Homo sapiens: one gene and its partners. The protein of the gene in region 2 purifies or fractionates together with the protein of the main gene of each other region. This does not show direct contact. Each region holds a gene or a part of one and is shown on either strand. Other genes may lie near its edges. The genes, in order: NDFIP1, SLC45A3, EIF3E, PRRC2B, HDLBP, MAP1B and SHTN1.

Region 1 (3,500 bases), on a different chromosome or scaffold from region 2:
CCTGAGTAGATGATACCATTGCCTTCTTTCTAATGAGGCCTGATTTTCTTCCTACTCCTCCAGCCTTGTCTTGACTTTGGAAGCTTTATCATGTATACCAGGGTAATCCCCTTCCCTTGCTGGTTTAGGAATGGGCACAGGATGCCATTCTGACCAGTGGAAATTGAGGGCTTCTGAGAAGCTTTCCTTGCTTCTCAAAGAAAAAAACAGTTCTTTCTAAAGGTGGTAGAAAATTTTTTTTTAAATAGTTCTTTTTCTTCTCTTGAGCACTGTCGTGTTTCAATGTAATACTGATACGTGAAACTGCCATCTTTTAACCCTGAGGGGAGGGGGGACCTGTGCCAATATGCTGATATGTCAGCTGTCCTTGATGATGTCAAAGAACCACTGACTTAACTAACCTTGTCAGGGACTTGTTTTCAGGGGAAATAAAATTTCCCCGTTTAAAAAAACAATTAAAAATTTTTTTCTAAGCCATTTTGAGCTAGGTTTTTGTTACTCACAGTCAAAAGCATCCTACCTGATACAAGTTAATTCATTTAACTTTTTTTTTTTTTTTGAGAAGGAGTCTCGCTCTGTCGCCCAGGCTGGAGTGCAGTGGCACGATCTCGGCTCACTGTAAGCTCCACCTCCTGGGTTCACGCCATTCTCCTTCCTCAGCCTCCCGAGTAGCTGGGACTACAGGCCCCCGCTACCATGTCTGGCTATTTTTTTTGTATTTTTTTAGTAGAGACGGGGTTTCACCATGTTAGCCAGGATGGTCTCGATCTCCTGACTTCGTGATCTGTCCGCCTCGGCCTCCCAAAGTGCTGGGATTACAGGCGTGAGCCACCGCACCCGGCCCATTTGATTCACTTTTTAAATGCAGTTGAAAATTTAGTTTGAAAAAAAAAAAAGACTGGAATTAATTTTATTTCTCTTTTCCTTGGAGGCTTTGGTGTCCAAGAGTTTAATGTAGTTCGAAAAGTAAAATATAGTATTTTCTTTGTTAATAAAGTAACAATTAAAATTTAGGGAAGGAATGAAAACCTCTTTAGGGCTCGAGTTCTTAACCTAAAGTCCATTATTATAGATGAGTACATATTAGCTATGTGGGGGAAAAGCTTACAACTTTCATCAGATTCCCAAAGGATTCTGGAACCCTAAAAACGTTAACAAATGTTTTATAATAAATAAGGTGGCACTACGTAGAAAAACTACAGTGGTCAAGCAACACCCATTAGTTAGTTAAGTATGCCAATTTATGACGGATAAATTGGTTTTGTTTATAAGGTTGACGATAGCAATAAATTTATCTGAAATCAGAGGATACTTTAAAAGCCTAGATCTTTTACAACTGTAAATTACTTCATGCAAATTTAACTAACTGGTAACTCTGAAGTCACTAAAGACATACATCTCTGTAATTTACTTGAGAGGTAGGCTCCTAATGGAGCAATACTTGTTAAACAGTTTTGGCTCCCCAAACATTTTGGCATAAGCAATCCTGGAAGGGAGAGGGGAAGAGAAGGAGAAAAGAAAAGAAGGAAGAAGAGAGCTAGATTAAAACTGTAACAGAATTAATGAGAGGAATGGCTGCTTTTGATGAGATATCAAAGGGGTAATATCCTTCCTTTTATTATAAAAACAACTAATTTCAGAACATATACATTATCATATTATAAACATTAAAAACAAACAAAGCAGATGGTGAACAATATTAATGATAGACCAGTTTTCAATAGATTTGACAACAAAACTTGTGTGCATGAACCATTTGCAAATGATTTTGGTTCAGCTTCATCATGAAACCACAGACAAACCAAAAATCATTTAACACACTGAAATAACTTTTAAAAAAGCAAATGAAAAATCGAATATTCAAAAATATTCTGATTATTGCCTCTCTGTAGAGCCCATCTTTTCTGTTATACAACTTACCCTGACAATCAGGATCCATTTAATTAGAGAGAGACCAAATCCTGAAATGGCCCCATACCTTCCTGCAGCTGAAGTGGTCAGGCAAAAAGACAGGAAAAACCCAATCCAGTTAAAGAGGAATGCCACTGCAAAAGCAGAGGAGGGGAAAGATGTTAGACATGTCCTGTTACCCAAGAACAAGAGTGCCTTACACCTGCCTCTGTTTAAATGACTTTCCAAAGGATAAAAGACAGCCTGTCCTCCACAACCGTCACCATACCTCCTCTAAAACATCCATTCTTCTGTCTTTCCCCAAAAAGCAAACAAGAAAAACTCCTCCCTATCAGGTTTTACACACTTATGTCTACTGCTAGTCACTTTCAAAAACGCCTTAATAGGCTGAGCACAATAGCTCACATCTGTAATCCTAGCACTTTGGGAGGCCAACGTTGGAGGATCCCGAGCCCAGCAGTTTGAGACCAGCCTGAGCACCACAGTGAGACCCATCTCTACAAAAACTGAAAAAAACAAAACAAACAAACAAACAAACAAAAGCCGGGCACAGTGGTGCACACCTGCAAGTCCCAGCTACTTGGGAGGCTGAGGTGGGGGGATCACTTGAGCCCAGGAAGTCAAGGGTACACTGAGAAGTGATCACACCACTGCACTCCAAATTCAGCCTGGGCAACAGAGCAAGACCTTGTCTCAAAAGGAAAAAGCAAAAAAAACAAAAAACAGCAAAAAGCAAACCTTAACATTCACCAAACTGTATACTTACAACCTCTGCTTTTTTTTTTTTTTTTTTTTTTGAGACTGAGTCTCACTCTGTCACCCAGGCTGGAGTGCAGTAGCACGACCTTGGCTCACTGCAATCTCTGCCTCCCAGGTTCAAGTGATTCTCCTGCCTCAGCCTCCCGAGTGGCTGGGACTATAGGCGTGCACCGCCAGGCCCGGCTAACGGCTAATTTTTGTTTTTAGTAGAGATGGGGTTTCTCCATGTTGGCCAGGTTGGTCTTGAACCTCTAGCCCCAGGTGATTCGCCCACCTCAGCCTTCCAAAGTGCTGGGATTACAGGCATGAGCCACTGTGCCCAGCCTTTGACCTCTTTTTTTTTTTTTTTTTTTGAGACGAAGTCTCACTCTTGTCCCCCAGGCTAGAGTGCAATGGTGCGATCTCACCTCACGGCAACCTCTGCCTCCCGGGTTCAATCGATTCTCCTGCCTCAGCCTCCTGAGTAGCTGGGATTACAGGTGCCTGCCACCACACCCAGCTAATTTTTGTATTTTTAGTAGAGATGGGGTTTCACCATGGTGGCCAGGCTGGTCTCGAACTCCTGACCTCAGGGCATCTGCCTGCCTCGGCCTCCCAAAGTGCTGGGATTATAGGCATGAGCCACCATGCCCAGCCTGACCTCTGCTTTTTACTGTGTGTGTTATATATATATAGTCCAGTAAATAAAATAAATGCCTTCAACATTAAATAAGTGCCCCCAAATAATCTGATTCAAGTCACTCATCCTCCTGTTCTCTGAATTTTGACAACTTATATAACATCACCTCTAAAAGCATTGCATTTTCTTATCTTTCTAATACAACAAATAA
Region 2 (4,215 bases):
AAGGGCCCCTGGAAAGAAGTGGTGGGAGGCAGGAGGAAGAGGGGGGCTCTTACTTGTCTGTGGTGCGACAACTCTCTCATGTTCCCAGTGTTCTTTCCCAAGCCTGCAAAATACCACCGTCCACTCTCTCCTGGCTCTGTAATTTTCCAGCTGACCTGAAATTTCCCCTGACTCCTGACCTCTTTCCTGGAGGAGAGGGGACACCAGCTCAGAGACCCTGGACTCCACCCTAGTCTCTCTGCTTGCCACGAGAGGGTATGCCAAAGACTTTGGAAAGCCATCTCCAGGAGGGTCCCCAGGTAGAGGTGTGTCTGCTCCAGGGAGGCAACGCTGAGACAGTTTTCAAGTTAAACTTGTTTAGTGACTCAGAAGGTAGATTCTTGATTTTTCTCTTCTCAACTCTCTCTGGCACCTGCTCTCTGTTCCCCACTACCACCAGGGCGCCACTATTTCCTCTCCCTTCTCTATCTCCCTTTCTTCTCTGCCTCCTTCTACCTCTCAGCTGGAAGGTGCCCTTAGAAATCATTTGGCTCACCCCCTCTTACAGAGGCCCAGAACATGGAAGGGACTTGGCCCACGTTATACGGCTGTTGACACAGGGCCAGCATTGGAACCCAGTGCCCCAGTGCCTGGTTGGCTAAGGCCAACCAGGTCTTCCCCTTCGAAGGCATCTTCCTGGGACTTTGTAGTATTCAAGTCAACAATCCAACTAAATTGGATTTCTCTCCACCCAATAAAACTCCATGGAGGAAAAAAAGACAAAACTGCCCCCCAACCCCCAACCCCAGGGCCAGCCTGGGACTCCATCAAAGACATTCTGGAACAGGTATCTGTTCGGACCTTGCTCAACAGCTGACAAAGAGAACATTTCATTGGCAATTTATCATCCATTCTTCCCCGTACACACTCTTAAGAAGAAAAAAAATTGGAATTTGGTTTTCAGCGCAGAAAGAGGGATTGAGTTAGCTCTGTCTGCGTCGGAGAATAGCAAAGAGCAGAAGGGTAATTCGGAGAGAATGTGACATCTCCTTTGAAGGGATGGTCCTGGACAGGTAGGGAGCAGCTCTGCCTGGAGATCGGGTGGCCAGAATGGCACGCCTGGGTAATGGTCGCAGCAGACTGGCTCCGAGTAGGGGAGGGGAGGTGCCCCGCGAAGCCGGGTAGCTTTCACCTAAATGTTTGGTGGCGAGCGACAGAGGGGGCGGTGCCCTGCCCTAGGTAATGATAGGGCAGTCTGGGAGCCACGCGGGGGCTGCCCGTCGCGGCGCGGCTACAAAGCCAGCTTCGAGACCTCCCGCTTTCTTCCCCTGGGTACCAGCCCCACCCCTCTATCCCCCCTCGCAGCACCCCCCACCTCCGTCCCGCCTCGCCCCGCCCCCCTCCTGGCAGTCCCAGCGCGCATGCTCTCTCCCCCCGCGGAGTAACCTGGAGATTTAAAAGCCGCCGGCTGGCGCGCGTGGGGGGCAAGGAAGGGGGGGCGGAACCAGCCTGCACGCGCTGGCTCCGGGTGACAGCCGCGCGCCTCGGCCAGGTAGGAGCGCGCCCCCTCCTCTCCCAGGGGTGAGGGTCCCGGCGCGGGAAAGGGAGCAGCAGTGCACGGCCGAGCTCCGCGCTGTCGCGTGTTTTGCGCCCCGCGGGATGGGGCTGCGCCGTGGCCGTCCGGGGCGCTGCGCGCCGAGCCCCGCGCGAATCCCAGAGGAGGGCGCGTCCCACACGCTCTGCCGGGGCGGGTGCCGAGTGCCCGGCGCCTGCACGGGTCCCCGCTGAGCTGTGCTTTCTTCCGCGGAGGGCGGGCAGGCAGGAGGTGCCCGCGCTGTCCCAGGCGGGGCGGCGGTGTGGGCGGGGAGCGGCCCCTCCCCGGAGCCCCGGGCCGGGCCGGACCGGGCCGGGCCGACGGCTGGCGGACCGGCCGCTGGCTCCTGTTGCAGCCTCCCGTGTCAGACTTTTCTTTGGAAAGTTGCGTTTATTTTCTTCTCTTGTCTGGGCTTCACCGGAAAGGGGCAGGATGAGTCACTGCGGCGCGCACAGTCCGGGACTTGGGGGAGCCGGGACGGGAGCCGACGGCCGCGGCGCCGCGGGGTGCTCAGGCCCAGGCCGGCTTTCTTGAGGAAGAGTGAGTTATTAAGACAGGGAAAGGGGACTGAGCCCTCTTGGACTTAGAACTGGGGCGAGCTCTGGGTACAGAGTTGGGACTGGACCGTGTGTGTGTGTGTGTGTGTGTGTGTGTGTGTGTGTGTGTTACTGTGTCCCCTTTTCAGCCTCAGTTTCCCCCTCTGTGGGGAGAGAAAGGCCGCTGTTTTCTCCTCGCCTCCCAGGTCTCAGGTGGGGAAGGACAGAGTTCTGCAAACGGCAAACAGGTGTGATGTGGTGGTACCTAGGCATCCCGTGCAGCTTCTCAGAGCTCTGGGCCTAGGCAGGCTTGCTAGAAAAGCCCCAGGGACCTGCATGCTTTCTCCCTAGTGCGGGTCAGGCCTTCCTGTAGTCTTCCGCTCCCCCCAGGCACTGCAGTCCTGTGAGTTGCTCTTGCCCTTGACCTCTGAATCAGCCTCCATCTTCCTGACAGACACTCTTGACCTGCTCAGCTTTTCCCCACTCCAGGGCGTGTTCCCTATGCTTCCTCTTTTTCCAAGGGGCCAGAGTTGGGGGTAGGGAGGGGTTTGGCATGGTGGGTACCTGGTGAGGACTCGCCCTTCAGCTGTTACACAGACCCGGTCCCGGTGGAGCAGGGACTAAGAATAGCCCAGCTGCTGTCTTGCTGCCCTGGAGTCTGCAGCCGGGCATTGCCAGTTGACCAGGGCCCGCAGTGACCCTTGCTGGGGTCCTGGAACCTTTGCTCAGGGGTGGGGTTGAGGTCCTAGGGGCTTCGGACTACCTTTCCTGAGGCACTTAGCAGATCTCCTTTCAGAGCAGAGACCGCCTTGGTGTAGACTCACCTGCCCGAGGCCTGGGAAACAGGCTGGCCTATTGGGGTGGGAGTGGGAGGGCCCAGGAGGCCCAGGCTAGACGGGAAGCCTGAGGAAACCCATAGAGCAGCATATTGTAGGGGATAAGTGGGACGCAATTTGAGGTCGCAGGCCATTCTGTTGGATCAGTCCCATTCCCTCATTCCTCCCTTATCTCCTCCCACCAGGCCTGTCGTGGAGCCAGGACTCTGTTGTTCTGAAAGTGCTCAGAAAATGCAGCTTGAGTCAGCAGAATGAGTTTGAAGATAAAAATACAGCTGTGGATGAATGTACAGCTGTGGACAGACAGGCCCCAATTTAGTGGGTGTGTGTTAGGGGGAGTTTTCCTATGTATTCATGGAGTGTGTGGTGAACTTCCCCATCCCTCCTGGCTCCCTGAATAACGTTGAAGGAGGAGGAGGAGTAGACAGTGATCCCTGGTGGTCTCCTGAGCCCATTCCAGGCCACTGGGTGGTGGAGGGATAGTGGAGGCCTCTCTCCAGCTCTCCCCTTACCCAGACTGGAGCTCTCAGCCTGGGCAGGGCTGGTCTGAAGATTCAAAGTAAAGTTAACTTGAAGACTTTAAGTACTATCATCTGGACGTCACAGCCTGATAAGTCAACATGGATAAAAACCCAGACTGTCAGAAAGATAGTTTCTTTTTTTAGACGAAGTTTCACTCTTGTTGCCCAGGCTGGAGTGCAATGTCACGATCTCAGCTCACTGCAGCCTCCGCCTCCTGGGTTCAAGTGATTCTCCTCCCTCAGCCTCCCAAGTAGCTGGGATTACAGGCACCCACCACCATGCCTGGCTAATTTTTGTATTTTTAGTAGATACAGGGTTTTACCATGTTGGCCAGGCTTGTCTTGAACTCCTGACCTCAGGTGATCCACCCGCCTCAGCCTCCCAAAGTGCTGGGATTACAGGTGTGAGCCACCGCACCCGGCCAGAAAGAAAGTTTCTATATTGGCTGCTTCACTAGGTGAGCTCCACCAGCTTGGCAAGTTACATAACCTCGTCCAAGCCTCAGTATCCCTGGCTGCAAAATGGGAATGATAATACTTACTGTATAGCTTTGTTAAGTAGATTATAACAGACATAAAATTTATAAACATATAATTACGTTATATATAGTCTAAAAATTATAGCTTTATTAAATATTGTATATAGAATACTAAACTGTGTGTCTGACACATAAGTGCTCAATAAATGTTAGTACCAACTATATATTGTATCGATCATTTGGGACTGAATGGACAGCAGTGCCTAGCCT
Region 3 (3,500 bases), on a different chromosome or scaffold from region 2:
GGAGTTGTTTAAACTTAAAATATACTTTTTTCTATCATTTGAATTTGTTGTCACCTGTTTTTTTTTTTCTTCATGTAGTAGATTTGCTTGTTACTGAAAAGTATGCATGTGACTCTTAAGTAAACTATTTGACAGAGTGTACCCTAAGCCTTTTAAAGTGCTATTTAAAGTGTGGTCCCTGGGCCAGCAGCATAGAAATCATATAGAATCTCAGGACTCACCCTAGAACTAAATTAGAATCTGCATTTTAATAAGATCCCAGGTAACTCATGTAAACATCAAAGCTTTAGAAATGAGGCTCTAGGGCATACTACTTGAAAGGAATACGTGCATCTTTTTATATCATCTTTGCTCTGTCAACTAGCTTTTGTTTAATATTTTGGTGATGAGAAATTCACTGCTTATGAACTAGACCATTCTTTTGTAAGCTAGAAATTATTTGTAAAATTTACTCTTCCAGTGGAACTCAAATACCTCTGAAACTTCTGCCCATTATTTCTTGTTTGTTTGGAATGACAGAAAACAAGACTGCTTCATGGAAACTCTTTAGATGTTTTAAGATAATTTTTTACTCCTCTCTGCTTCCTTCAGGCTAAATATCTCTAGTTTTATTAAGTAACACAGTTTTTCAGACCCTTTAGTATTTTGATTGCCTTTTTAGATAATTTCTATTCATATTCTTACAATCTAGATGTTCATAATTGAAATTTTATTCTAGGATTGTCATCTAAACTTTATAGATTACAGTGGCAATATTAGCTCATGTTACTTGTATGTATGCTTTTACTAATATAGCCTAAGATTGCAGTAGCAATTTTAGCAGTTGCTTCATGGTATGAGTTATATTGTATTGACTATATTATTGGGCAAATTTTACAATAACACTTTTTTTTTTAGATAATGTCTGGCTGTGTTGCCCAGACTGGAGTGCAGCGGCATTATCTTGCCTGACTGCAGCCTCTACCTCCCAGGCTCAAGCCATCCTCCCCCGTCAGCCTCCCAAGTAGCTGGGACTACAGGCACATGCCACCATGCCTGGCTAATTTTTCTATTTTTTGTAAGACAGGGTTTCACCGTGTTGTGCAGGCTGGTCTCAAACTCCTGAGCTCAAGCAGTTCTCCTACCTCAGCCTCCCAAAGTGCTGAGATTACAGGCATGAGCCACTGGGCCCAGCCCTACATTAACAGTCTTAGTTCATACTTTTACTATTTGTTCATCTAAATGAAGATTTTATAGTTTCATTACATTTTATCTTGTAGAAATGAAAATGGTTTCATATGACAAATGAAATAATAAGAATTCTAAATCATTAGGAAATACTATATACTTGGCTGATATCCTCCAAAATCTGAAATACCCTGTGTGGCATTATCAGATCAGTTAACTGAGGGAGGAATCATGGGGGGTTTTGCTTTGTTTTTAAATGATTCCATTAACAGGATTATGGGTCCTGATGAATGTATTGGTCAGTATTTAAAAAGTGTGTGCATATGGGAATATATCCTAACTTTGTGGGGCAAAAAATCCCTTATTTGAACATCCAGTAAAGCCTTCCTCCTCAAACATTAAAGTTAGATAGATATACACTGAAAAGCCATTGGATATTTGGAAGGAAGAGAAAAATGATATTAAAATTATATTTGGGAGTATTTTTACCAGCCAGTGCTTCTTAAACATTTTGGTCTTGGAACCCGTTTACACTGTTAAGAATTATTGAATGTAGGCCGGGCGCAGTGGCTTACGCCTGTAATTTCAGCACTTTGGAAGGCCGAGGTGGGTGGATCACCTGAGGTCAGGAGTTCGAGACCAGCCATGGTCAACGTGGTGAAACTCCATCTCTACTAAAAATACAAAAAATTAGCCCCACGTGGTGGTAGGCACCTGTAATCCCAGCTACTCAGAAGGCTGAGGAAGGTGAATTGCTTGAGTTTGGGAGGTGGAGGTTGCAGTGAGCCTAGATCACACCATTGCACTCCAGCCTAGGCAACAAGAGTGAAGCTCCGTCTCAAAAAAAAAAAAAAAAAAAGAATTATTGAATGTAATTTTCTTTGCATTGGTTTTATCTCTTGGTGTATACAGTAAGTCCTCAATATTGTCTCTAGGTTCTTGGAAACTGCATCTCTAAGCAAAACAATGAATAATGAAACAATTTTCTTTCTCAACAGCTTCATAATGAAAGAATGTTACTTGGTTTTAAAGTCGTAGTTTCCAAGAAGGTACCGATTATGTTAAGGACTTAACTGTATTAAAAATCAAAACAAATTAAAAATTTTCTCATTAATAAATGGTAAATTGATTCAATTTAACACATAATAGAATTTTAACGAAAGTAACTTTGAAAACAAAATTAGTGAGAAGAGTGACATTGCTTTACATTTTTGCAGACCTTCAGTTGCTGGGTTAATTGACAACTGGGTTTTCATGCCTGCTTTCTTGCAGTCTGTTGTGATGTGCTTTAACTGTAGGATGAAAAACCTAGCTTCACACATGTAGTTGGAAAAGAAAGGTGTGTTTTATTAATAATATCCTTTTCCGATAATTGTGAATATTCTTTTTTGAAGATACAGTAAAATTCAGTAAGAAGTACAGATAAAATAAAACTCAACAAGAAATAGTTTTTAAAAGGTTGTTTGTAATGTAGAATCTGAAACCATGTGGTTAAACTTTTTGGGATCCTAAGCTGTACTGGTATTCTAGACTGTATTGAGCTATCTTGCACTTGGAATGGATCTTTTTTACCCATGCATGATTTTATAGTATCATTCATTGGTTGTTTGGGAAATACTTACTGGTCCAGTGAGTTATGCAGGTATTCCAGTGTGTTGACATTATACAACACCAGAAAAACCACATTCATGAACATCACTACCAGACCCATAGAAACGGGTTTAAGCATTGGAAAGCTTTCAAGCTCCCAGTGGCTGATACAAATTTTCCAAAATTCTAGTTTTTCTTGAAAGCTCTAATTTTATCATTTGTTTTTCTTGAAGGACAGGCTCACTTCATTTTCTAGAAAATGTCTGGCAAATTCCCAAGTCTGAATGTCTGAATAGCTTTAGTTTGTCTGCCATTCTTTCAAGTAAAAACAGTGTTCTGTGAGAAAAGCAGCTGGTTCATCTTGTTTCTCAGTTGCACAAGTGCTTTTCCTTAAGGACAGCCGTGACAGTGAAGTGTGTATACAGCAGAAGCACTTTATGAATACTTACCATTTAGTCATACAGAAGACTAGAAAGATTAGTACTTAAGGGTTGAAGTTTTTAAAAATTAATTTGGGCTACGTGATTCAAGGACATAGTTGAAACTTTTTGTGTGTTTTTTAAAACTGCAAAAGTGTGGTGGTGAAAAATATAGGGACTGCTAGTATAGTTTGATGCCACTGCTTTGATTTACTCTAAAGTACAAGAAGAATTTGTTTGTTTATAGTTTAGTAATTTTTAGTAACTTAACTGAGTGATATAACCATCACAAGTCAGTTTTAGAACATTTTTATTGCCCCAGTA
Region 4 (3,500 bases), on a different chromosome or scaffold from region 2:
GGGATGACAGGTGTGAGCCACCGTGCCTGGACACCCAGGCTGTTTCAGACTCCTGGACTCAAGTGATCCCTCCGCCTCCGCCTATCAAAGTGCTGGGATTACAGGCATGAGCCACGGCACCCAGCAAGGCAGCCTCTTTCATGAGCCACTAGGTTCTGGGGGGTCTCAGTCCTGGTTAAGCCCTTTGATGAGTGGGGCTTGAGGTCTTACTCCATTTACTGGTTTGAACCTGGAGAAGCCTTTTGTCTTAAACAGTTTTTGTTTCTAGGGACATGGATGCCCCATTGACTCCTGGGGAGATCCTGGTCTGGTGGGGAGGAGGCCCTGGAGAGCCCCCCACCTAACTTTGGCCTCATCCTCTTGTGGTTTCTTTCTTTCTTTTTTTTTTTTTTTGAGACGGAGTTTTGCTCTTGTTGCCTAGGCTGGAGAGCAATGGCGCGATCTTGGCTCACTGCAACCTCTACCTCTCGGGTTCAAGCGATTCTCCTGCCTCAGCCTCCTGTGATTTCTTCGGAGCCCCCTACAGTTTCTCTTTATAGCAGTTTTCACAACTTGTAAATAGGTGTTTTTTTCTTTATTTGAATTTTAAAAATTGTGGTGAAGTATACATAACATAAAATTTACCATTTTTAAGTGTACAGTTGAGTGGCGTGAAGCACTTTCACAGTGTTGTGCAACCATCACCACCATCCATCTCCAGAACGTTCTCATCTTCCCAAACTGAAACTCTGTTCCCATTAGATGCCAACTCCCCTCCCCCATCCAGTGGCGGCGGCCACCATTCTTACCATTCTTTCTCCTTTTTTTTTTTTTTTTGAGATAGGGTCTCACTGTCGCCCAGGCTGGAGTGCAGTGGCACGATCTTGGCTCACTGCAACCTCAGCCTCTTGTGTAGCTGGGATTACAGGCACACGCCACCACACCCAGCTAATTTTTGTATTTTTTTGTAGAGACGGGGTTTCACCATGTTGGCTAGTCTGGTGTCGAACTCCTGGCCTTAAGTGGTTTGCTTACCTCAGCCTCCCAAAGTGCTGGGATTACCGGCATGAGCCACCGTGCCTGGCCTAGTTTTTGTATATTTTATTTTATTTTATTGAGACAGAGTTTTGATGTTGCCCAGGCTGGAGTGCAATGGCGCGATCTCGGCTCACTGCAGCCTCTGCTTCCTGGGTTTAAGAGATTCTCCTGCCTCAGCCTCCCGAGTAGCTGGGATTACAAGCGCCTGCCACCATGCCCAGCTAATTTTTGTATTTTTAGTGGAGACGGGGTTTCACCATGTTGGCCAGGCTGGTCTCGAACCCCTGACTTCAGGTGATCTGCCCACCTCGACTTCCCAAAGTGCTGGGATTACAGGCGTGAGCCACTGTGCTTGGTCTAATTTTTGTATTATTGTTATTATTTTTGAGACAGAGTCTCGTTATGTCTCCCAGGCTGGAGTGCAATGGCACGATCTCGGCTCACTGCACCTCTACCTCCCGGGTTCAAGCGATTCTCCTGCCTCAGCCTCCTGAATAGCTGGGATTACAGGTCTGGCTAATTTTTGTATTTTTAGGAGAAACGGAGTTTCGCCATGTTGGCCAGGCTGGTCTCGAACTCCTGAGCTCAAGCGATTTGCCTGCCTCGGCTTCCCAGAGTGCTGGAATTACAGCCATGTGTAATCCCATGGTGGCAATGTTGAGCCACCTTGCCCTGCCAACCATTTTACTTTCTTTCTGTGAAACCGAATACTCTTAAGTACCTCATGTAAGTGAGATCATCCAGTATTTGTCATTTTGTGTCTGGCTTATTTTTAGCATAGTATTTCCAAGGTTCATCCATGTTGCAGCATGTGTCAGAACTAACTTCATTCTTAAGGCAGAATAATATTCTCTTATTTGCATGTATCTACCACATTTTATTTATTCATTCAGCGACGGGCAGCAGCCTGTAGATAGTTTTGTTTTCATGTATTGAATGGTCCTTTCCCCCAGTGGAGTGAGTAAATGCATCCGGAAGCAGAATTCTGTTGTTTCCCATTCATCACTGTGTGCCAGGTGTCTGAGAAGGGGGTCTTATAGGAGCCCACGCAGAAACCAAGCTCACCTCAGTCTGGGTGTGGGGCAGTCAGGGAAGGCATTCTGGAAAATGTAGCTGACTCGAAATAAGCACCTATTGAAAATAGTGTGCTGAGCCCTGGAACATTAAAAATGTGTTCCTATGTGGAAATCAGAAATGTATGGGTCCCAGAAGAGAACTTGTGGGTCAGCCTGCTTTCCAGAGAGTGCCGAGGCCCTTTGAATGGTGAACATTATGCAAGCATTCTTGTATGGCCAGTGGCCAGCAGGGAGGAGGGCAGAGAATGACTGTGCCTCCGGGAAGCCGGCGTCAACTTCCCGACACGCTTCAGGATCATCTCTTTGTATAGAACCATGGGATGGATCGCTGCAGGACCTACTGGAAAAAGGAGGTCATCTCCAGGACTCTTTCCATGGGTCCTTTGTGTCTTGCAGAACTTTTTTCGGCAGGTGTTGTTTACATATGGTTCAGAGCTTAAAGAACAGCTGTGTTCCAGGCCAGGGCAGAAAGCACAGGCCTGTCTGGGAGGGGCATCATCACTCCTGCCTGCCTGCCCAACCGACCTGTCGGTGGACTGAATGGGCCAAGTGTTCAGAAGTCCTTGGGAAGAGGATAGTGTCCTGAATCATAATGTGGTATTTTCTGGTTTTTTGTTTGTTTGTTTGTTTTTGGTAAAATGTTAATTGCAGAAGTATACAGGTTATTTTATTTATTTATTTATTTTTTTTTGAGGTGGAGTCTTGCTCTGTTGCCCAGGCCGGAGTGCAGTGGCATGATCTCGGCTCACTGCAACCTCCACCTCCCAGGTTCAAGCAATTCCCCTGCCTCAGCCTCTTGAGTAGCTGGGAGTACAGGTGCATCCCGCCACGCCTGGCTAATTTTTTTTTGTATTTTAGTAGAGATGGGGTTTCGCCTTGTTGCCCAGGCTGGTCGCAAACTCCTGAGCTCAGGCCATCTGTCCACCTCAGCCTCCCAAAATGCTAGAATTACAGGCGTGAGCCACTGCGCCTGGCCCATACTTTAAAAAAAAAAAAAAAAACAAAATTAAAAGCCAAGTGTTTGAAGAGAAATGAAAGCTTTTCCCCAATGTCCCAGGCAGTAACCATTATTGATAAATTTGCTTTGTTTATCCTTCTAGGCTCAGTGCACGTATAAATATGGCCTCATGTAGGGAGGTTTTTTAAAAAACAAAAATGGGATATACTATATTGTATTGCAACTTGGCATTTTCAAAATATCACAGTATTTTTCCATACGTATTTTTAAGCGTAACTTCTCTTATTTTTATTTTCAGTAATACTTTTTTTTTCTTCCTTAGGGATGTGGGGGTGGGTCTCGCTATGTTGACCAAGCTTGTCTTGAACTCCTGGCCTCAAGCTGTCTTCCCATCTTGGCCTCTGAAAGTGCTAGGATTACAGGTGTAAGCCACCACACCCAGCCATTTT
Region 5 (3,500 bases), on a different chromosome or scaffold from region 2:
ATAGCCGAGGTAGAGGTCTCCATCCCTGCCAAGCTGCACAACTCCCTCATTGGCACCAAGGGCCGTCTGATCCGCTCCATCATGGAGGAGTGCGGCGGGGTCCACATTCACTTTCCCGTGGAAGGTTCAGGAAGCGACACCGTTGTTATCAGGGGCCCTTCCTCGGATGTGGAGAAGGCCAAGAAGCAGCTCCTGCATCTGGCGGAGGAGAAGGTGAGCATGGGGAGGGAGCGTGACTCTTGGCAGGAAGCCTGGTCCTCAGTACAGTGTTCTCGCTTCTCACTGTGGAAACCCCTGAATGCCCTTCCTTTGTGGCGGGTCAGAAAACAGCTCTATAATGTACTGTTTATGCGTCTTTGTTTTTGCTGTTACTGGAGGGCCTTTCCAGGTCCAAACGCTCACATATGCAATATATAAAAGTTGGTCTTTGGCTTATTAGTTTTGGGGTGCTTTTGTTTTTTAAATATGATTTACAGTAAAATTGGCCATTCTTCAGGTATAGTTGAGTTTTAAGTAACATGCAGTCATGTGACCACAATCATCAAAATTCATTTTCCATCACCCCTAAAGATTGCCCATGGAATTGCTGTTGTCCTTGTGTCAAAACCCATCTGTGGGTATGTTTCCGGGCTCTTCTGGTGACACCAGGTTTATGGGAAGTCTGGAAATCAGTAGTGTGAGCCCTCTTAACTTTGGCTGTTCTACACCCCTTGCTGATCAGCCTGTCAATTTGTAGGAAAAAAGCACTTTCACGTTTTGATTGGGATTGTGTGAAATTTGAAGATGAGACTGGCGAGGATTGACAGCTCAGCAGTTTTGACTTTTGCAGGCATTTCTCCATTTTTTTTAGGTCTGTGATTCTTTATTGGTGTTTTATAATTTTTAGCACATTTTTATGTTCGACTTAACAGATCTAACTACTGTTACTCTTTTAGTGCTATTGTAAATGGCACTTTTTTTCCATTTCCAGTTGTTAGCACATGGAAGTGCCTGTGGTTTTTGTATGTTGACCTTCACGAGGCTGCTAAATAAAGCTCATGTATATTAGCGCCAGTCACTGTTTTGTGGATTTTTTTTTTTTTTTTTTTTTTTTTTTTTTTTTTTTTGAGACGGAGTCTTGCTCTGTCGCCCAGGCTGGAGTGTAGTGGCGCAATCTCGCCTCACTGCAAGCTCCGCCTCCTGGGTTCACGCCATTCTCCTGCCTCAGCCTCCCGAGTAGCTGGGACCACAGGCGCCCGACACCTCACCCAGCTAATTTTTTGTATTTTTAGTAGAGATGGGGTTTCACAGTGTTAGCTAGGATGGTCTCGATCTCCTGACCTCGTGATCCGCCCGCCTCGGCCTCCCAAAGTGCTGGGATTACAGGCGTGAGCCACTGCGCCCGGCCCACTGTTTTGTGGATCCTTATTTTATATGTCACAATCACGTGGTCTGTGGACAGTTACATTTCTCTCTAATCTGGAGCCTTGTATTTCTTGTCTTTTTTGTTGTTGTTATTAGATTGATGTTTTTGTCTTTGTGTTTAACCAGCCTTGCGTTTCTGGGGTAATCCCTGCTTGGTTTGGTAGGTTGTCTTTGGCCATATTGCTAGATTGCATTTGCCTAATTGATTGCCTAATGTTTGACTAATGCTGCTATTTGTGGATGTCTTTGAAAAGTAGCAGAGTCTCTAGGTGGTATTTGGTGAAACCTGCACTTAAAAGGTAGCAAAGTTGTTATTTAATATTTTTGTGCTAGCATGTTTTTCTTTGGTATTTTTGCTTGCGGGCCAGATCTTGGGTCCGGAGAAAGGCAAGAGCTCCCCGTGTGGACCTGAGTCCCGTGGAGCAGCGCCCTTCTCGGGGCCCCTGCGTGGGTCTGCCAGAAGCACTGGTGTCCACAAGCAGTGTCCGGGGCCTTTCCAGGACCCTCGTTTTCTTACTGCCACACAAGGGCGTCGCACTACACGAGGCCTCTGAGGACCGGTCTCTAACTGTAGCCTTGGTTGGCTTGTGTCCCTCTGAGCTTGAGCTTGAGCCTGGGGAGTGGCTGGTTTTGTGGAGGCTGATCTGTAGCACTCGTGGGAAGAAAGGGAGCCTGGCCCAGATTTGTGTGTGCTTGGTCTGGAAGCAGGTAGAAGAGTGGGAGCATGGTGCACACCTCTTGGGCAGCTTGCTTCCTGCTCTGCTGGGCACACCCCACGCTCCCCAGGACGTGCACTCCGCCAACATATCGTCCGGCGCGTTGCTCCCACCTCCCCCTGTGCAGATCAAAAATGGCTTGGAGAAGTTTGGTCAGTGCTTGTAAGTGGCAGGACCAGGGTTCTAAGCCTGTGTGTTCATCCCACCAGCATCTGGTTGTTGTGGAAGAGAAGTAGGTGTGCAGTCTGGGTATTCATCTGTTTATTCAGTGAGGTGTGCTAGCCCCATTTTGGGGGTATTGGTGCAACATCAGGACACTGGTGACAATGTAAGGGGAGCCCGAGCTTGCTGTCCTACAGACCCTCTTGTCTTCCTCACTGTGGTCCAGGCACGTGGTGTCAGGCTAACACAGTGGGATTGGTTTCTGCAGCAAACCAAGAGTTTCACTGTTGACATCCGCGCCAAGCCAGAATACCACAAATTCCTCATCGGCAAGGGGGGCGGCAAAATTCGCAAGGTGCGCGACAGCACTGGAGCACGTGTCATCTTCCCTGCGGCTGAGGACAAGGACCAGGACCTGATCACCATCATTGGAAAGGAGGACGCCGTCCGAGAGGCACAGAAGGAGCTGGAGGCCTTGATCCAAAACCTGGTAGGGAGCGGGCCTCGGCGGCCGACTCTGCTGGGGCCGTGATGGGGTGGCTTATCTTCCATCTCTTCTTAACACTGCAGGATAATGTGGTGGAAGACTCCATGCTGGTGGACCCCAAGCACCACCGCCACTTCGTCATCCGCAGAGGCCAGGTCTTGCGGGAGATTGCTGAAGAGTATGGCGGGGTGATGGTCAGCTTCCCACGCTCTGGCACACAGAGCGACAAAGTCACCCTCAAGGGCGCCAAGGACTGTGTGGAGGCAGCCAAGAAACGCATTCAGGAGATCATTGAGGACCTGGTAGGCACTTGGGTGCTCGGGGAGGGGTTCTCACCCCCCAGTGGCCACTCACCGAAGCCGTGTATGAGTGTTCGCTCCACCCTGTAGGGAGGTGACTCCCTCATACAGCCCTGGAAGGCTTCAGAAGGGGCTTTCTGGTGCTCGCTCTTCTTTCCTCAGCCTGTCTGGCCTCCTTCCTGATAGTTGGTGAGAATTCTGCCTGCGAGAAGCACTTAAAAAAAAAAAGAGAGAGAGAAGGAGAAGAGGAGAGGGGAGAGAGAGAGAGGAAAGAAAGCAAGAGAAAGAAAGAAAATGCATTCTGTATAAGGGATCAGGAAAAATGAAAATGCAGTCTAAGGGGTCAGCTCTCTTCTCCCCTCTGTGAAGGAAAGAAAATCGATTTGAGGGCATCCACGTGAATCCATGGGAAGTCATGAGAAGACGTGGTCT
Region 6 (3,500 bases), on a different chromosome or scaffold from region 2:
ATCTAGCTTACATGTTTATAGCAATTACAGAAACAATTCAGACCCATCCCCATAGCAGGTTGGGGCCTGCCTGTGGCCGATAGCAGATTTCTACATGGAGGGACTGAGGGATGTTCTGATAAGAAGAGTCCCCACATCTGTTTAAAACTGTCTTTCTGAGGTGGTGGCTTGTCTGTCTCATGTGTACTGTGAAGGGCCACGTGTCCTTCTGCACTTAATTTTCCTTGGCCCTGAGGTTCAGAGAAAGCTCTGTTTGTACTTTTCATCACTGGCAAGAACTGTAAGCACACTGCCCAACTTCATCTGAGTCACCTGGAGGCTTCTTTAAAAACACTGATCAGAAGGCATAATAATGTTCACTCTCCAGCCACTGGGGTGGGGAGAATGTAAAACTGTGAAAAGGAACATTTTTGAAGCCACAGCTGTCAGAAGGTGTGGCGTCATCTGCATCTTGAAACACATACCAGGATGGGATCCCCCAGGCAGGCAGCTCCTTTCTCAGAGGCTTCAGAGCTCACTCACAGTTGGTTCATCTTTACCACTTCAAAATGCAAGCTTTGGCTGTGTCTTCTTCCAAGGCCGCTAGAGTTCACGCATCTTGCCTCATTCATCTCGGTATCCATTGCACCTGCACATAGTAAAGGCCTAGTAAGCCGCTGTTCAATTGCATTGAAATTCCAAAGCTAGGGCTACAATTCTCACTCTGCCTACTGTCCTGAAGTTGTTGTTTGATCACTATAATGTCAGAATGTTTTGCAAGATTATGTCCCCATGTGCATGTTGTACCCGGAGGCAGGTGGGCATTTGTCTAGTAGCTCTGGGGTCACACACATTATTAGCATCTTGCCTCAGGGAAGAGAGAAAGCTGCAGAAGGCTGGAAGTGGCCCAATGACATGGTGAGCAGTTAAGTGGCCTGCTTATAGCTCATTTGCATGCACATGGGCACTTTCCACATTCCTGTGCAGTTCTGTAGTTATTTTCTAGTGGTTGGTTTCTACCCAAGTCATTGGTTTGTCTTTTTTGCCGAAAAACCAGACAAAGGAAATATGTAAAGAAAAGTGTCATTGCCAAGATTTTCAATAAGGAAGTAACACGATTTGGCATATTTGCATCTCAAATAATATCCCTCCTTCCCCTTCTTTAAATAAGGTTGTTATGAATATTGCTGCTTAATCATTTTTACTAGATTATGGAAGCAAAATTTTAGCACCATGGACTGTGCACGTGTCAGATTTTGCCACTAATTACAGAAAAAAAAATTTGCCCTAACTGAAGAACTCGAGTTCCGTGGAAGGGCAGATTCCCCAGGGTTTATACTTATTGGGGTAGGTTCTGGAGGACACATATTTTGATTATACTCAGGCAGGTATCATTATGGTCAGAGACCATGTCATATTCTCTTCTGCCACCCACAAAGAAAGGATGCCACAGCTAAAGTGAATTGAAAACCACTGGACTGGACCAGTGGTTATCAGCCTTTTGGAGCTAGGATTGCCCATTGTTGCCTTGGAAAAATGGTTGAGTAACTGAATAACAAACGGACCTTGAAGACCACTTGTTGTCCAGCTCTTTTCCTTTTATCCAGTCCTTGAAACATACTAGTTAACTCCAGGGAAACCAAAACCACAATTTGGGACAAACAAAAATGATACTTTTTAAAAAATATAAGAACAGCTAAAAATAAATGGACTGAAAAAATAGAACTATCAGTACACTTTGAGCTTCAGGTTTTGGAGTCTTAATCACTGGAGATCAATTAACAAAACCAGAACTAACAGACGGTACAATTGTCTGGCTAACCCCACTCCTCCCTGAAATCCAGGGATGGTGAAATCATCATCTCCTGGGGACATTTTTCAGTCTCTGTGTTGGAAAGTTTTTCCTTATTTGTCTCATTGTATCTTCAAGGAAGTGATGTGATCCCTTTCCCACCTACAGTGTCTTAGTTACCCTTCACCAACACTGCCGATTTTTTCCCTTTCAGATTAATCATCTTCAGTTTTACCCACAGTTCTTCATAACCCTGCTCACTGTCCTTCAAACTTGTTCCTCTGTCAAGAAAGGGAGGTGAAGGCCAGGTGCTATGGCCCATGCCTGTAATCCCAGTACTTTGGGAGGCCAGAGTGGGAGGATCACGTGCGGCTAGGAGTTCTAGGTTGCACTCAGTTATAATCTGCACTGCACTCCAACCTGGGCAACAGAGCAAGATTCTGTCTCTTAAAAAAAAAAAAACTATACTTAAAACATTAAAAAAATAAAATAAAAAGAAGAGGAGATGGGATGGGTATGGGGGGAATTCAGGAGTTTAGTCCTGGTCATGTTTTAGTGCCTTGAAATCAGACAGTTGGATTTATGAGAACAGAGCTCAGGGAACTCAGAGTCGGGCTGGAGATACTAATTTGAAATCCATTAGCATATTAGAGGTATTTGAAGCCCAGAAGACACATGATGTGACCTAGAGTGAGAAACATTTTAAGAAGAGAAAGGGCCCAGGTCCAGTGTTGACAGGTCATAAGGCCAAGAGGAAGGAGCCAGTAAGGGAGACTTGTTTCAGGTTTTTGCTTGTTGGTCTAATTTCTCTAAAATGTCATGACTCAAACTGGACACCCTATTCAGGAGTCATTTGACCAGGTTAGGATTGTGAGAGTTGATAATGTCTATAGTTTTCAATACCATCTTCTATTAAAGAAGTCTAAAAGTGACTTTTGACCATCACCATACACCATTAATGGTCAATGGGGAAGTCAATGGGGAAGAGATGCAGGCTTTGAGGGGCTCGACAATTTATATAATTTAAGGGCTCTTTTTTAAGAAAAATGAAACAATTATTAATATACAGTTAAGTACAGGGCCATGCCAATGAGGTACCTTGAAGTTTAAGCTTCTTTGGCTTCATGATAAATCCATTTGACTGTCAACTAAAATCCCTGAGTCTTTTCCATGGATATTATTGTTAAGCCACATCTCCCAATCCTGTAGTTTACCCTGCTGGTTTATTGAACCTTACATTTATCCCTTTAGAATGCCATCCTGTTAGAATTGACTTAGCCACCATCATCCCAATGTCAAGAGCTTTTATAAATACCTTAATTCTGCCATTCCACATTTTGCTGTGTCTCCCATTTTCATACCATGCACAAATATGATATGCATGCCTTCGCCATTTTTATCCAAGTGAATACAGGCCAGAAAATGAGACTTGAGGCAGCCCATCATAGACCTCCCTCCAGGTTGACATTAAGCAGCACTATTTATATGGCTGGCTGGAAATCCACCTAATTCTACTATCACACTGTTCAGGGGTCCTATTAAATGTCTGGCTAAAACCCAGAGATACACTGTCTACTGTATTTCCTCATCAGCCAAGCAAGTAACCTAATCAAAAAGGAAATGTAGTTCGTAGGCCATGGTTTAGAAATTCAAATCTTGTTTCATTAATCTCATCTGCAGTAAAACCATTTATTTCTTACATCTTCCTTCCTCTTCCAGTATGCCTGCA
Region 7 (3,500 bases), on a different chromosome or scaffold from region 2:
GATAAGCTGACATTGATGGAGATACTGTAGTCCCTGCTTACCCATGGAGGAAGCTATGTTTCAACACCTGCAGTAGGTGCCTGAAATCATGGATAATAACAAACCCTATATATTCCAAGTTTTTTCCTGTGCATACGTATCTGTGATAAAGTTTAATTTATAAGTTAGGCACAATAAGAGATAATAAAAACTCATAATAAAATAGAACAATTATAACAATATACTGTAATAAGAGTTATGTGAATGTGGTCTCTCTCTCTCTCTCTCAAAATATCTTGTGGTACTGTAGTCATCTATTTTCATACCATGTTGACCATGGGTAACTGAAACCCTGAAGAGTGAAACGGTAGATAAGAGGGAAACTACTGTCTGTCAGAGACACAAGAGCCGATGGAAAGAACATCCAATGTCCAAAGACGGAACTCTGAACAACAGAATATTGGATTATAATTCAAAATTTGAAGTAATATTCATGAGTTGATACTGATATAAATAAATGATTAAAGACAAATCTCCCATGCAGAGCAATTCCAAATAATTTATGTAGATGTTCCCCCTCAAAGCGGTGTATCTTAACTCCCTGATTCTTTTTTTTTGAGACAGAGTCTCGCTCTGTCCCCCAGGCTGAAGTGCCGAGGCATGAGCTCTGCTCACTGCAAGCTCCGCCTCCCAGGTTCACACCATTCTCCTGCCTCTGCCTCCCGAGTAGCTGGGACTACAGGCGCCCGCCACCATGCCTGACTAATTTTATGTATTTTTAGTAGAGACAGTGTTTCACCGTGTTAGCCAGGATGGTTTCGGTCTCCTGACCTCGTGATCCACCCGCCTCAGCCTCCCAAAGTGCTGGGTTTACAGGCGTGAGCCATCGCGCCTGGCCCTAACTCCCTGATTCTTAAGTGTGGGCAGCACATAGTGAATTCCTGCCAAAGACTACAATATGGAAAAGGGGGAACCAGTAACTTTACAGTGGAGAAACCTGACAAACACTATGTCAGCTAGATGATCAAGGCCAACATCAACAATGATGATAGCATGATAGTGTGATGTGATGAATTGGCGTTTTACCTCTGTGGTCTTCCCCTAAAAACCCATAAAGCCAGTCGACTCATGAGGAAAATATCAGCAAATCCCTATTGAGAGACGTTCTGCAGAATACCTGATCAGCACTTCTCCCAACTGTCAAGGTCATAAAAATGAGTAAAGTCTGAGAAACTGTCATAGTCAAGAGATGCCTTAAGGATTGAAGGGTAGAAAAAATAATCTGTCCCTCAAACCTTGTAAGTTCATAATTGGGACAGATACCTGTAACAAAAGACATGAACAAGCAAGTTTATTAATGCATGCAGTGCACATCGCAAGGGAGAAAAATAAGCAGTGGCTCAACATACTGTCTTCAACAAAGAACTATACATTTAGAAAAGTGTTAGGACAAAGGAAAGCAGTTCCAGGCTTCCAAAGGCAGGAGAATGTGGGAAGGTGAGTTTATGGGGAAACTCCTGGGGTAAAGTCTACTCGCAGATTTCTCTGCCACCATCTCTGAGGTGATATGGGTTGTAAAGGAGAATGGGTATCTTGTTTTTAGGTGGGAAATGGGGAGAAGATAGACCTCTTGTCTTTGTAATTCTGTGTCCTGCTTTTAGGCAGACAGAGGGAAGGCAGATAGTTTCCTTCATCCTAATTATCTTTAGCTCGAAGGTCTTTCATATTTTGGGGAGATAGGCTGGTTTCCTTCAGTTCTCCCCTTTGAAACTTTACTTTCAGAAAGTCTCACATATTATGTGCTAGGCTGGTAGCTTTGGAGAGGTATGGTTGTAGATAAGTGATTGGCAAAGGGGAAGAAAACCAGATTGGAACCAGCAGAAAAGAACAGATTTAAGTATATTGTCTCATATCTTATTGAGTCAGTCTCTTAGTCCTGAGACTAGGTTAGTTTAGGTAAACAGTCATGTTTTATTTCAAGAGGTGGTGTTATGGGTGATCTCTTTAATGTTAGGTTTCTATATGTATAAGCATACAAATACTTAATAAGAGACATTTCTATGAAAAAAAAGGAAAAGCAAGGTTAATGTTTAGAGCAGTCTATAAATTAGTTTCTGAGTCTGGAGAGCAGCCAGTTGAGAGGATTTATAAATCTTAGGCTCAAAGTGTCTTCAGCTGGAGTGGGGCAGGCAATTGCAATCTGACAGATTTTCCTTGTTTGTAGTTTAAATATCATAAAGGTTGTCGATACAAAAGCTGTTGTGGTGATTTCTCTTATGTTTGTATCAAGTTGTCCAGCTTTAGCTTGCATAGCTTCAGAAAAAGCCCAATTTTAATTTCAGTGATTCCAGGTCAAAGGGTGGGAGAAAAATTGGAAATGTTAGTTTGGAGACTCACAGCCAGGTATCAGAAAAAACTAAAAGAATTTAGGATCCATTCCAGATTGCAGGTAGTTAATAAAATCTCAAAAACAATGAACAGGGCTAGAATCTAGTAATGGGTGAACTATAGTTTCTGAACTATTATTTTTCTGAAAATATTTTTCCTCTCTCACACTAATTTCTACCAAAAAGAATCAGTAAGACCAGTTTATTTGTAAAATAAGTTTTTGTCTATTATACTTGGCCTAATTATTTACATAAATGCAGCAAAAATAGTGATTGACTATGTAAGCCCTTTTAAAATCTGCTTTGCTGGAACTCTTCATAAGGAATCTCGGATTAGGCTTACAAAAATGCCTCCTTAGGCTAAGAAGCCAAGCTTAGGACTCAACATCAGATTGTGCCTATAGTAGTCTTAGATAGATAGCTCTCTTCCCTAGATTCCTGATGTTCCTGGGCCTGTCAGGAAGGTGACATTCTTTACCCTATAAGGCAACCATTTGAACCATGTATTCAAGGTACGAGGCCAGTATTTCCAAGGTGCCTTTATTGGCCCCATTAAACTGAGGTTCCTCTAGGGACCTCAGTTCCCAAAAACTGGTCATATCAGAAAATACGACATTCTCATCAAACTTTGGCAATATAACCAGTATTTTCAATTGTATCCTATTAAAAGAAGAACGGATTCTTCCTGAACTTATGCAAATGCCTATATTATCCTAAAAATAAGAATACTCATGAATAGTTTCCAAATTTTGGAGGGATCAAGTAAGGAAGAAAAGTAAATGTTTCAATTCTATTTGCAAAAGTATACTTTACCAAATTGTCTTAAGCCATAGATAGCGCAAAAGAAGAAAATGTTTTCCTAAATCTGGAAAATAAAAGAATCAGTAGTGTTTCTAATAAAGTCCTAAAAATCACAGTCCCTCATCATGTTAGTCCCATGTAATTAATTCTTAATTTTGCTCGATGTTAGCAATTTTAGGAGTTCAGTTTCTCCTTTAGATTTCTGGAGTTCATACCTAGTCCACTGGTATTTCCTTAAAGTTATCAGAGACCTGTACAGGTCAGAGTTCTTTTTGTTCTTCCCATATACCTCCTTGAAGACCCAAAACTTTAGGATTATAATTGCTTGCAAAA

The links.
Region 1: the proteins of SLC45A3 (region 2) and NDFIP1 purify together in Homo sapiens (affinity purification with mass spectrometry; one large-scale study listed by BioGRID and IntAct). This does not show direct contact.
Region 3: the proteins of SLC45A3 (region 2) and EIF3E purify together in Homo sapiens (affinity purification with mass spectrometry; one large-scale study listed by BioGRID and IntAct). This does not show direct contact.
Region 4: the proteins of SLC45A3 (region 2) and PRRC2B purify together in Homo sapiens (affinity purification with mass spectrometry; one large-scale study listed by BioGRID and IntAct). This does not show direct contact.
Region 5: the proteins of SLC45A3 (region 2) and HDLBP purify together in Homo sapiens (affinity purification with mass spectrometry; one large-scale study listed by BioGRID and IntAct). This does not show direct contact.
Region 6: the proteins of SLC45A3 (region 2) and MAP1B purify together in Homo sapiens (affinity purification with mass spectrometry; one large-scale study listed by BioGRID and IntAct). This does not show direct contact.
Region 7: the proteins of SLC45A3 (region 2) and SHTN1 purify together in Homo sapiens (affinity purification with mass spectrometry; one large-scale study listed by BioGRID and IntAct). This does not show direct contact.

What each region holds. Positions count from the first base shown.
Region 1 is NC_000005.10:142,136,279-142,139,778, reverse strand, and holds part of NDFIP1 (NEDD4 family-interacting protein 1), read right to left. Parts: intron 2,046-3,500; coding exon 1,921-2,045; intron 1-1,920. UniProt on the Homo sapiens protein: Activates HECT domain-containing E3 ubiquitin-protein ligases, including NEDD4 and ITCH, and consequently modulates the stability of their targets. As a result, controls many cellular processes.
Region 2 is NC_000001.11:205,677,710-205,681,924, reverse strand, and holds the start of SLC45A3 (solute carrier family 45 member 3), read left to right. Parts: upstream 1-1,415; 5' UTR 1,416-1,531; exon of another isoform or gene 1,532-1,555; intron 1,556-4,215. UniProt on the Homo sapiens protein: Proton-associated sucrose transporter. May be able to transport also glucose and fructose.
Region 3 is NC_000008.11:108,224,718-108,228,217, reverse strand, and holds part of EIF3E (eukaryotic translation initiation factor 3 subunit E), read left to right. Parts: intron 1-3,500. UniProt on the Homo sapiens protein: Component of the eukaryotic translation initiation factor 3 (eIF-3) complex, which is required for several steps in the initiation of protein synthesis.
Region 4 is NC_000009.12:131,400,586-131,404,085, forward strand, and holds part of PRRC2B (protein PRRC2B), read left to right. Parts: intron 1-3,500.
Region 5 is NC_000002.12:241,239,173-241,242,672, reverse strand, and holds part of HDLBP (vigilin), read left to right. Parts: coding exon 1-213; intron 214-2,364; exon of another isoform or gene 2,365-2,550; coding exon 2,551-2,772; exon of another isoform or gene 2,773-2,852; coding exon 2,853-3,071; exon of another isoform or gene 3,072-3,171; coding exon of another isoform or gene 3,172-3,282; intron 3,283-3,500. UniProt on the Homo sapiens protein: Appears to play a role in cell sterol metabolism. It may function to protect cells from over-accumulation of cholesterol.
Region 6 is NC_000005.10:72,187,475-72,190,974, forward strand, and holds part of MAP1B (microtubule-associated protein 1B), read left to right. Parts: intron 1-3,500. UniProt on the Homo sapiens protein: Facilitates tyrosination of alpha-tubulin in neuronal microtubules. Phosphorylated MAP1B is required for proper microtubule dynamics and plays a role in the cytoskeletal changes that accompany neuronal differentiation and neurite extension.
Region 7 is NC_000010.11:116,995,188-116,998,687, reverse strand, and holds part of SHTN1 (shootin-1), read left to right. Parts: intron 1-3,500. UniProt on the Homo sapiens protein: Involved in the generation of internal asymmetric signals required for neuronal polarization and neurite outgrowth.